Linked DNA regions of Homo sapiens: region 2 is linked to region 1. Evidence: fine-mapped expression QTL. A gene starts in region 1. The other region holds a variant in brackets. All regions are shown on one strand. Distances are between the middles of the regions. Region 1 holds the start of WDR70 (WD repeat domain 70). Region 2 overlaps WDR70 (WD repeat domain 70).

What was found. PIP is the estimated chance that this variant, and not a neighbour inherited with it, causes the effect.
Region 2: its variant is the best candidate, but not a certain one, in a credible set for the expression of WDR70 in blood mononuclear cells (TOPMed, PIP 0.85).

What each region holds. Positions count from the first base shown.
Region 1 is chr5:37,376,871-37,382,249 of GRCh38, forward strand. WDR70 (WD repeat domain 70) reads left to right here and starts at 2,448. Exons shown (of 18, transcript NM_018034.4): 1 at 2,448-2,522; 2 at 2,619-2,684; 3 at 4,732-4,815. The coding sequence starts at 2,498.
Region 2 is chr5:37,684,961-37,690,339 of GRCh38, forward strand. The region is part of intron 10 of WDR70 (WD repeat domain 70); the gene reads left to right. Among named protein-coding and RNA genes, the nearest start is that of GDNF-AS1, 150 kb to the right of the region's middle. The variant A/G (reference allele first, on the strand shown) is at 2,948.

The DNA.
Region 1 (5,379 bases):
TCTACTATTTTATTATTTTTGCATCACTCTATTATATTGACTTTGGAAACAAAAGACATTATTCTATTTATAGCATTCTGTTTTTAGTAGTGGAATTTCCATTTACAAAATATAGTAATTCTCGACTGCTGAAAATGTCAAATCCTAGAAAACATAGCATTCCTATGTGTGATGTTAATTCCATGGTGAACTTATGGCACTGAAATGGTGTGACAACAAGGCAGTCACAATGTTGTCAATATTCCACAATGATACTGTGATTGAAGTAGACAACAGATGGAAAGAAAACTAAGAAGCCATGTGTCATTGTGGATTATAACGATAATATGGGAGCAGTGGACTTGGCTGATCAGATGCTCACTTCTTATCCAGCTTAGCGCCAAAGGTACAAGGTTTGGTATAAGATATTCTTTCATAGGCTGTGTGCAGTGGCCCACGCCTGTAATCCTAGCACTTAGGGAGGCTGAGGCGGGTGGATCGCTTGAGCTCAGGAGTTCAAGACCAGCATGGGCAACATGATGAAACCCTATCTCTACAAAAAATACAAAAATTAGGCCGGGCACAGTGGCTCACGTCTGTAATCCCAGCACTTTGGGAGGCTGAGGCGGGCATATCACTTGAGGTCAGGAGTTTGAGACCAGCCTGGCCAACATGGTGAAACTCTGTCTCTACTAAGAATGCAAAAATTAGCCAGGGGTGGTGGCAGGGCCTGTAATCCCAGCTACTCGCAAGGCTGTGGCAGAATTGCTTGAACCCAGGAGGCGGAGGTTGCAGTGAGCTGAGATCGCGCCACTGCACTCCAGTCTGGGCAATGGAGCGAGACTCTGTCTCAAAAAAAAAAAAAAAAGTCGGGTGTGGTGGCGGTCACATGTAATCCCAGCTACTTAGGAGGCTGAGGCACAAGAATCGCTTGAACCCAGGAGGTGGAGGTTCATTGAGCCGAGATTGTGCCACTGCATTCCAGCCTGGGTGACAGAGTGAGATTCTGTCTCAAAAAGAAAGAGATTCTTCTCCACCTTCTAAACGTTAAAGTGTTGAACTCCCACATTCTGTTTAAGAAGGACAATCCTGAGCACACGATTAGCCTTGTAAACTTTAGACTGACAGGCCAGGTGCAGTGGCTCACGCCTTTAATCGCAGAACTTTGGGAGGCTGAGGTGGGCAGATCACAAGGTCAGGAGATTGAGACCATCCTGGCTAACACGGTGTAAACCCTGCCTCTACTAAAAATAGAAAAAATTAGCTGGGCGTGGTGGCGGGTGCCTGTAGTCTCAAATACTAAATAGCCGGGCATGGTGGCGCACACCTGTAGTCCCAGCTGCTCGGGAGGCTGAGGCAAGAGAATCGCTTGAACCTGGGAGGCAGAGGTTGCAGTCAGCTGAGATCACGCCACTGCACTCCAGCCAAGGCAACAGAGGGAGACTCAGTCAACAACAACAACAACAACAACAAAAAGGCAGAGCGCGGTGGCACGGGGCCTGTAATCCCAGCACTTTGGGAGGCCAAGGTGGGCAGATCACCTGAGGTCAGGAGTTCAAGACCAGCCTGGCCAACATAGCAAAACCCCGTCTCTACTAAATACACAAAAATTAGCCGGGTGTGGTGGCAGGCGCCTGTAATCCCAGCTACTCAGGACACTGAGGCAAGAGAAGAGCTTGAACCTGGGTGGCAGAGGTTGCAGTGAGCCGAGATCACGCCATTGCACTCCAGCCTGGGCAACAGAGTGAGACTCTGCCTCAAAAAAAAAAAAAAAAAAAAAAAAAGCAAAGGGTGTCGCCTGTAATCCCAGCACTTTGGGAGGCCGAGGCAGGCGGATCACTTGAGGCCAGGAGTTCGAAACCAGCCTGGCCAACATGGCAAAACGTCGTGTCTACTAAAAATACAAAAAATTAGCTGCGCGTGGTGGTGGACGCCTGTAATCCCAGCTACTTGGGAGGCTGAGACAGGAGAATCGCTTGAACCCGGGAGGCGGAGGTTGCAGTGAGCCGAGATCACGCCATTGCACTCCAGCCTGGGCGACAGAGGCTCCGTCTCAAAACAAAAACAAAAACAAAAAAAAAACAAACCAAAACAAAAAACCAAAAATTAGCCGGCACCTGTAATCCCAGCTACTCGGGAGGCTGAGGCAGGAGAATCGCTTGATCCCGGGAGGCAGAGGTTGCAGTCAGCTGAGATTACGCCACTGTACTGCAGCCTGGGCGACAGAGGCTCTGGCTTAAAAAAAAAAAAAAAAAAAGGGAAAGGATGTTATAGAAACTCCAGATACTACTTCTCCCCTCCAGTGGTCTGAGTTGCGCGGCGCTTTCCCGCCTGTCCGGTAGGGCGGTGCCGCGCAGAAAGCCGCGGTCCCTCTGCGGAAGGCGCCGCTCTTGGCTTCGGCGGCGCCGCTGTAGCTTGAAGGCGGTACTTCCTCCAGCATTTGCCGCAAGTTATTGGCAAGTTCCCCTGCAGTTGTTTGGGCTGTCCCTGTGGCTGGTTCTGGGGTGTGCGGCCAGCCATGGAGCGCTCTGGGCCCAGCGAAGGTGGGTTTCATGAGGCGAGTCCGGGCGGGGTGGGCCGTGTCGGGGGAGCTGGGGCGCCGCACTAACTAGGCCGCCTCTCTTTTCCTCTTGCTCCAGTGACAGGCTCAGACGCGTCGGGACCGGACCCGCAGCTTGCGGTCACCATGGGCTTCACGGGGTTCGGTGAGTGACTGCCCCAGGCAGAGACCCTCTTCCTTGTGCAGAGGTTTGAAGATCCGCAGAGTGGGAGTGGAGATCGAGCTGTCAACTCGGAATTATTGTAGCTCGGGTGCATACCTTGCAGTTTGTCAATATTCTTCTCCCATTTGTCTTCTATTCTGCGTTATCCGTTGGAACCAACTCAGATGACAGTTATGAGAGTCTGGAGAGAGAGGAAGAGAAAGGATTTTTCTAATTTTAAGTCACCAATAATGCTAAAATGAACATTTTTGTAAATAACAGCATTTGTACGAGGATTTTTAAAAATACGTAATTCGGTAGGGTAGATTTCTAAAAGAGAGTGTAGTTTATTCAGAAATATAAATACTTAAAAAGCTGAAAAATTGGGTATGTGCCTTTTAAAGCTTCTTGATGCTTATTGCCGTAATACCCATCAAAAAACTTGTTCCAGGTTATACCAAAGTTAACAGAATTAAGAATGCCATTTTTACCATATCCCTACCAACACAGAGTAGGTATTATTATTTAAAAAGAAAATTATTTAAAAAATGAAAACAAAACTTAGTAGACTGATACATGAAAAATGATTTCTCTTTATTTTCCATTTTAAAATTATAAATGCTGTTCATCCAAACATTGGGATTCTAACTTCCCTGAACCTTTTCTCAAGGTCTTCTTGTTTTCTTTTGACCAGCGTGTATTAATTCTATGATAGTAATTAAACAGTAGACTTACACATATTGGCCTTGGGTTGTGTTCACACATACTAGTTCTGTAGTTTCTCTATTCATTCTTTTTTTTTTTGGAGACGGAGTCTCGCTCAGTCGCCCAGGCTGGAGTGCGGTGGCAAGATCTCGGCTCACTGCAATCTCTGCCTCCCGGATTCACGCCATTCTCCGGTCTCAGCCTCCCGAGTAGCTGGGACTACAGGCGCCCGCCACCTCGCCCGGCTGATTTTTTTTTTGTATTTTTAGTAGAGACAGGGTTTCACCGTGTTAGCCAGGATGATCTCGATCTCCTGACCTCGTGATCCGCCCGTCTCGGCCTCCGAAAGTGCTGGGATTACAGGCGTGAGCCACTGTGCCCAGCCTTTTCTATTCTTTTTTTATTTTTTGAGATGGAGTCTCGCTCTGTCACCCAGGCTGGAGTGTACTAGTGCGATCTTCGCTCATTGCAGCCTCCTCCTCCCAGGCTTAAGCCATCCTCCCACCTTAGTCTCCTGAGTAGCTGGGACCACAGATGTGTGCCACCACACCTGGCTAATTTTTTATACTTTTGGTAGAGACGAGGTTTCACCATGTTGCCCAGGCTGATCAATCTCCTGAGCTCAAGCAGTCCGCCCACCTGAGCCTCTCAAAGTGATTACAGGCATGAGCCACCCCACCCGGTATAAATCCTTCATTTTAGTACATCATTCCTTTACTCAGGAGTGAGAAAGTTGTCCATATGTTTGTGCCAAATAGGGGAAAATTTTAAGAGTTTTGATAAAGTTACTGGGGGAGGAGGAGAATGTTTCCATGCTCATCCAGTTCCTTGTTAGAGGGCTGAGATTTCTGTTTCCCTCTTAGCTCCTTAAAGTACCTGCATTACTTCTCATGTTGCCCCTTTCGTCTTCAAGCCAACTATAATGCCTCAAATTCTTCTCAGACATTGGATCTCTCTGACTTCTTCTGCCATAGCTGTTCTGCATCTTTGCCTTTAAGGGCCAAATAGGATAGTTTCCCTATTTAAAAGTCCATAACCTTAATTATATTGCAAAGGGTAACTTTTGGGGCATTCTCCATTTTGCCTCCCCACATCAGTGTTGTTGTTTCATAGGGTAGGGATCTAGAGGAGGATGGGAAAGTTGCCTGGTTAATAGTACTTAGTGAAGGGATTGTCAGCAGAAGTTTTCTGTGACTCAAACTCCTTCTTCTGTGATATATTATGGTTATATTGGAGCCATGCTATAAACTAGACAAAGTAAGTGTTTATTGATCAGTATTGATCACCTAAAGTTTGGCCAACTTACTGCAAGACAATCACAGTCTCCCATTTGTTCATGTTTTAGGTAAAAAAGCTCGCACATTTGACTTGGAAGCAATGTTTGAACAAACTCGAAGGACAGCTGTGGAAAGAAGTCGCAAAACACTGGGTAAGAAGCTCAGATATTTGTTCTTTTATTGGTTTAAGTACTATGTATACCTCATGCAAGTATATTAAAAAAGAGAAAAGAATGTTGGCTGGGCGCGGTGGCTCATGCCTGTAATCCCAGCACTTAGGGAGGCCAAGGCGGGCAGATCACCTGAGGTCAGAAGTTTGAGACCAGCCTGGCCAACATGGTGAAACCCCATCTCAACTAAAAATACAATAATTAGCTGGGCATGGTGCAGGGGCCTGTAATCCCAGCTAGTCGTGAGGCTGAGGCAGTGGCTTCAGTTGAAGTCGGGAGGCAGAGGTTGCAGTGAGCTGATATACCCCCATTGCACTCCAGCTTGGGGGACAAGAGTGAAATTCCATCTCAGAGAACAAAGAGAGAAAAGAATGTTGTTATGCTACTTATCACTGTTGTTTTTTTTTTTTTTTGAGATGGAGTCTCGCCCTGTTGCCCAGGCTGGAGTGCAATGGCATGATCTCGGCTCACTGCAGCCTCCACCTCCCCGGTTCAAGCGATTCTCCTGCCTCTGCCTCCCGAGTAGCTGGGACTATAGGCACATGC
Region 2 (5,379 bases), 310 kb after region 1:
CTGGTGGTGGTATTAGCATGGGGTTAGGAAGCTGGCAAGCACAGGTCTGTGTGTGCCCTCTGTGCATGTTCATGCAGCCAGGGGTTGGCTGCTCAGGGTTGGGGAGGGTCCAGTGTTCTCCATCTCTATTTTCACTCTGGCAGCAGTGTTGGCACTGGGATGGGGTGCTGGTGGGGGTGGGGCTGATGGGCTCTGTGCCCACCAAGGCACTGACTGCAATGGTGGTATAGTGGGGGTGAGGAGGTGGTGTGCGCTCTTACCAGTAACAGTGTTAGGACAGGTAACAGGCAAACACTGGTTGGGCAGGGAAGGCAAAATCCACTCATGTAGACACACACCAGCAGAGTGATGTAGGTGGTTGCCGTGGGCCTGGGGGAAGCTGCAGTGAGGGGAGGGAGTGGGCAGGCTGGTGCATGGCCACAGGGGGCTGCCCCACTGGAGCTCTCCACTGGTCAGGCATGGTCTGCCAGTGTAGGAGCTATGATATAGGCCCCCAGGGTTGCCGAGGCTGCACTGCAAGCAGACCTAGCCAGGCTGGGACCCTGGAAGAGGCCAGCTGACTTAGGGGTACTCAGGTCAGACCAGCCCCATCTGATGGGCAAGACTGCCCCTACAGTGTTCATGTCAAACAGTTTCCCTACAGCCAAAGTCTTCTACGGAAGCAAGTCAATCCTAGGGGTATGGGCATCCCTGCTGGTGCTCTACCACAGATGCTCCCACACCAAACTCTATTGGCTGGCACGCTGCCCCTACTACTTTTCTGAGCAGCTCTCCCTGCCAACTAAGTGTCCATGGTGGTTGAAGGGTCTCTTCCTCCTGGGATTCTAAAGGCCCGTGGCGAGAGTGGGTTGCTCCTTGCTATTTCACTTCACCTGCTCCCCAGGAGTCACTGGGGGCCAGAAATGAGTCCAGTGTGCTCTAACCCCACACAAGTTCCCAGCTTCCTCCCCCTTCAGCCCAGCTTCTGTGTCTTCTGTCTACTCGCAGTGTCTTCCCTCTGAAGATCTGCTAGGAGCGTGCCAGTCATCCTGGTTCCTTGGTGGCAGCTGTTCCACCCGGCTGCATGTAGTCAGCTGTCTTGCCCAAATCTCCCCCAACACTGTGAAGCCTAGGCGGGAAGATCGCTTGAGCCCAGGAGTTCATGACCAGCTGGGCGACAAAGTGAGACCACCCCCCGCCCCAGCTCTACAAAATAAAAGTATAAAAACCAGCCAGGCATGGTGGCTTGTGTTGTAGTCACAGTACTTGGGAGGCTGAGGCAGGAAGATTGCTTGAGCCTGGGAGGTTGAGGCTGGAGTGAGCCATGATTATGTCACTGCACTCCAACCTGGGTGACAGAAGGACACCCTGTCTCACAAAGGGAAAAAAAAAAGACTTTATGGAAGACAGAGTTTTCTGTTGATAATTTGTCAGACTGTCAGAGAAGAAAAACTAGATTTAGTCAGCATAGCCACAGAAGACAACCAGGACCCATGAGTAGTTGTTAGAAGTGAGTCTTGGACCCAGCTTAAAAAGTTGTTGCCAGTTAGAGCCTAGGCGGGAAGATCGCTTGAGCCCAGGAGTTCATGACCAGCTGGGCAACAAACTGAGACCACCACCCCCGGCTCTACAAAATAAAAGTATAAAAACCAGCCAGGCGTGGTGGCTTGTGCCTGTAGTCCCAGTACTTGGGAGGCTGAGGCAGGAGGATTGCTCCAGAAATTGACTGATATTCCTTATAATGTAATGCATTTTGAATTTCCAGAGGCTCCATGACCATCTGCTGAGAAAAGAGGTATACAGACAATTTTTCCAATTGGGAGTTTGTATTGTGTGATCCCAGACAGGGCCTTCAAAACTCTGGGATTTTGTGCTTGCGTTTTCCATCTTGGTGAATATTTGAGTCTTGATATTCTCCAAATCATAGTGTAAGGCACACCTAAGAATAAGAGGCCTACGAGATTGTGCCATTGCACTCCAGCCTAGGCAACAAGAGCAAAACTCTGTCTCAAAATAATAATAATAATAATAATAATAATAATAATAAGCCTATATAAGGTAGTTAATTATCAATCTCAGCTTCCTAAAGAACGATATTCTTTGCTTAGGATGATTATAACAGCAGTTAAAGGACAAGTTGCAGTTTTAGATTCCCGACATTATGCCTGAAGTGTTCTTCAGTTAGGTTGACATTGTTTTCAAAGTGTGAGGATATTTGTCATAATGGACTGTCCAAGTGTTGATGTTTGATGCAAATTTTAGGTCACCTTTGTCTCTTTTTCCTCATTGGAATATACTTTTGTTTCTGGTTAAGGTGAAGTTAATAATTGAAGAGCACTTTTTGATATAAAATTTGGGAGGTCTTCATCTCAATCAACTAAAGACATTGTGCCTCTTTGTTTTATTAGGTCCTTTAAAAGACAAAATGAATTAATTTTGAGTGCATCTCTCCCTCTCCTGTGGGATCTTAATTATTAATATCCAGCCATTTATTACTTTAAAGAGGTGTTGCAATGGAATATGTTGGAGGTCAGAAAGACTGGATGGGGCTTGTTTTGTAGCATATATTCACTCATTCTGCATTATAAATAATGAATTCTAAAAGTTTCAAAACATTACACCTCCAATATAATGTTCCTTTAAAGGGAATCCTAAATGAGGAGACATAAACACGTAGCAGATGAATATTTGGTGAAGTCTCCTCATACTACAGCAAGACAAAATCACCTGTAGTCAAAATCCCATATTCTCATTCCGTTCATTATATTGTATCTACACTATCACCTGTTAGATCTAGCAGAATTTTTTTTTTTTTTAATTTCAGAAACAGATTACTTTTTCTTTACTTGAGCACTGGAAGGCTATATGTCTTTCTACCTTAGAATCCCACTCAGGGTAGTGAAAAGCACAGGGAAGGAAGACCAATTTAGGGAGCATCAGATTCACAATACCATCTCTTTTCTTCTCC[A/G]GAGCAACAAGTTAAGACTGTCATATGGAACTGTCTGCATGCTCTGGGCTCACACTGAAGTTTGTGTGATGTGAATCCACTGGACTCTATAACTTTTAAGGTTCTTTATCTCACTTTGTTTACTGGTATATATATGCATACACATCTATATGCATGTGTTTACTTATATTTTCAAATATCGACATTCAAGATTTTATCTTATTAATAAAGTATATATTGATCAGTTAATTGAATGATAAAGTATTATGCATTTGCCTGTTTTGCCTTTTCCCTAAGGGTCATAGAGCTGTAAATGACCCTGGAAATCATTTACTTCAATCTCTTTATTTTACAGAAGACAGAAGTGTGAACCAGACAAGCTAAGTAATTTGTCCCAGGTCACAATGCTAGCTTTTGCTTGAACTGAATCTAGATTTTGTGCCTCCTGGTTCCTGGCCCAGTGCCCTTTTTACTGTACTAAACTGTCTTATCACTCATGAAATGATAGGTCTTTCTTCTATTTGGATATCTATACGTATTGCTTAACATTAAAAACAAACAAAACTTTTAAAACAAACAAATAAAAAACTAAATTCATTTAGGCCAAATGAAGTACAGGACTTTTGGGTAAACTGCTACCACTGTTTATAAGATCTTCCAAAAGTTTCATTTAGAGTTTAGTAGTTGGTAACTTGATGGGATATAAGGAAGTGGCAAATTTTCCTTATTGAGGTTGGTAGCAGAGTTTCGTTTGTCCTAGGAACAGAATATTCCCAGTCTGTTCACATGTGTTCAGAATGATCATTTAAAAATAAGCAAATTTAGGTTTCCAAGATGGCCAAATAGGAACAGCTCTGGTCTGCAGCTCCCAGTGTGATCGACGCAGAAGATAAGTGATTTCTGCATTTCCAGCTGAGGCACCTGGTTCATCTCATTGGGACTGGTTGGACAGTGGGTGCAGCCCATGGAGGGGGCAAGCCAAAGCAGAGCGGGGCATCGCCTCACCTGGGAAGCGCAAGGGGTCGGGGGAATTCCCTTTCCTAGCCGAGGGAAGCCGTGACAGACTGTACCTGGAAAAATGAGACACTGCTGCCCAAATACTGCACTTTTCCCAAGGTCTTAGCAACCGGCAGATAAGTAGATTCTCTCCTGTGCCTGGCTCGGCGGGTCCCACACCCACACAGCCTTGCTCACTGCTAGCGCAGCAGTCTGAGATCGAACTTCAAGGCGGCAGCCTGGCTGGGGGAGGGGCGTCCGCCATTGCTGAGGCTTGAGTAGGTAAACAAAGCAGCTAGGAAGCTTGAACTGGGTGGAGCCCACTGCAGCTAAGCAAGGCCTACTGCCTCTATGCACTCCACCTCTGTGGGCAGGGCATAGCTGAACAAAAGGCAGCAGACAACTTCTGCAGACTTAAATGTCCCTGTTGAGAGCTCTGAAGAGAGCAGTGGTTCTCCCAGCATGGCGTTTGAGCTCTGAGAACGGACAGACTGCCTCCTCAAGTTGGTTCCTAACCCCTGTGTAGCCTAACTGGGAGACACCTCCCAGTAGGGGCCGACAGACACCTCATATAGGTGGGTGACCCTCTGGGACGAAGCTTCCAGAGGAAGGATCAGGCTGCAATATTTGCTGTTCTGCAATATTTGCTGTTCTGCAGCCTCTGCTGGTGATACTCAGGCAAACAGGGTCTGGAGTGGACCTCCAGCAAACTCCAACAGACCTGCAGCTGAGGGACCTGACTGTTAAAAGGAAAACTAACAAACAGAAAGGAATAGCATCAACATAAACAAAAAGGACATCTACACCAAAACCCCATCTGTAGGTCACCAACATCAAAGACCAAAGGTAGATAAAACCACAAAGATGAGGAGAAACCAGAGCAGAAAAGCTGAAAATTCTAAAAACCAGAGTGCCTCTTCTCCTCCAAAGATCGCAGCTCCTCGCCAGCAATGGAACAAAGCTGGACAGAGAATGACTTTGACGAGCTGACAGAAGTAGGCTTCAGAAGGTCGGTAATAACAAACTTCTCCGAGCTAAAGGAACATGTTTGAACCCATCGCAAGGAAGCTAAAAACCTCGAAAAAAGGTTAGACGAATGGCTAACTAGAATAAACAGTGTAGAGAAGACCTTAAATGACGTGATGGAGCTGAAAACCATGGCACGAGAAGTTCATGACTCATGCACAAGCTTCAATAGTCAATTCAATCAAGTGGAAGAAAGGGTATCAGTGATAGAAGATCGCATTAATGAAATAAAGTGAGAAGACAAGGTTAGAGAAAAAAGAGTAAAAAGAAATGAACAAATCCTCCAAGAAATATGGGACTATGTGAAAAGACCAAATCTATGTTTGATTGGTGTACCTGAAAGTGATGGGGAGAATGGAACCAAGTTGGAAAACTGTCTTCAGGATATTATCCAGAACTTCCCCAACCTAGCAAGGCAGGCCAACATTCAA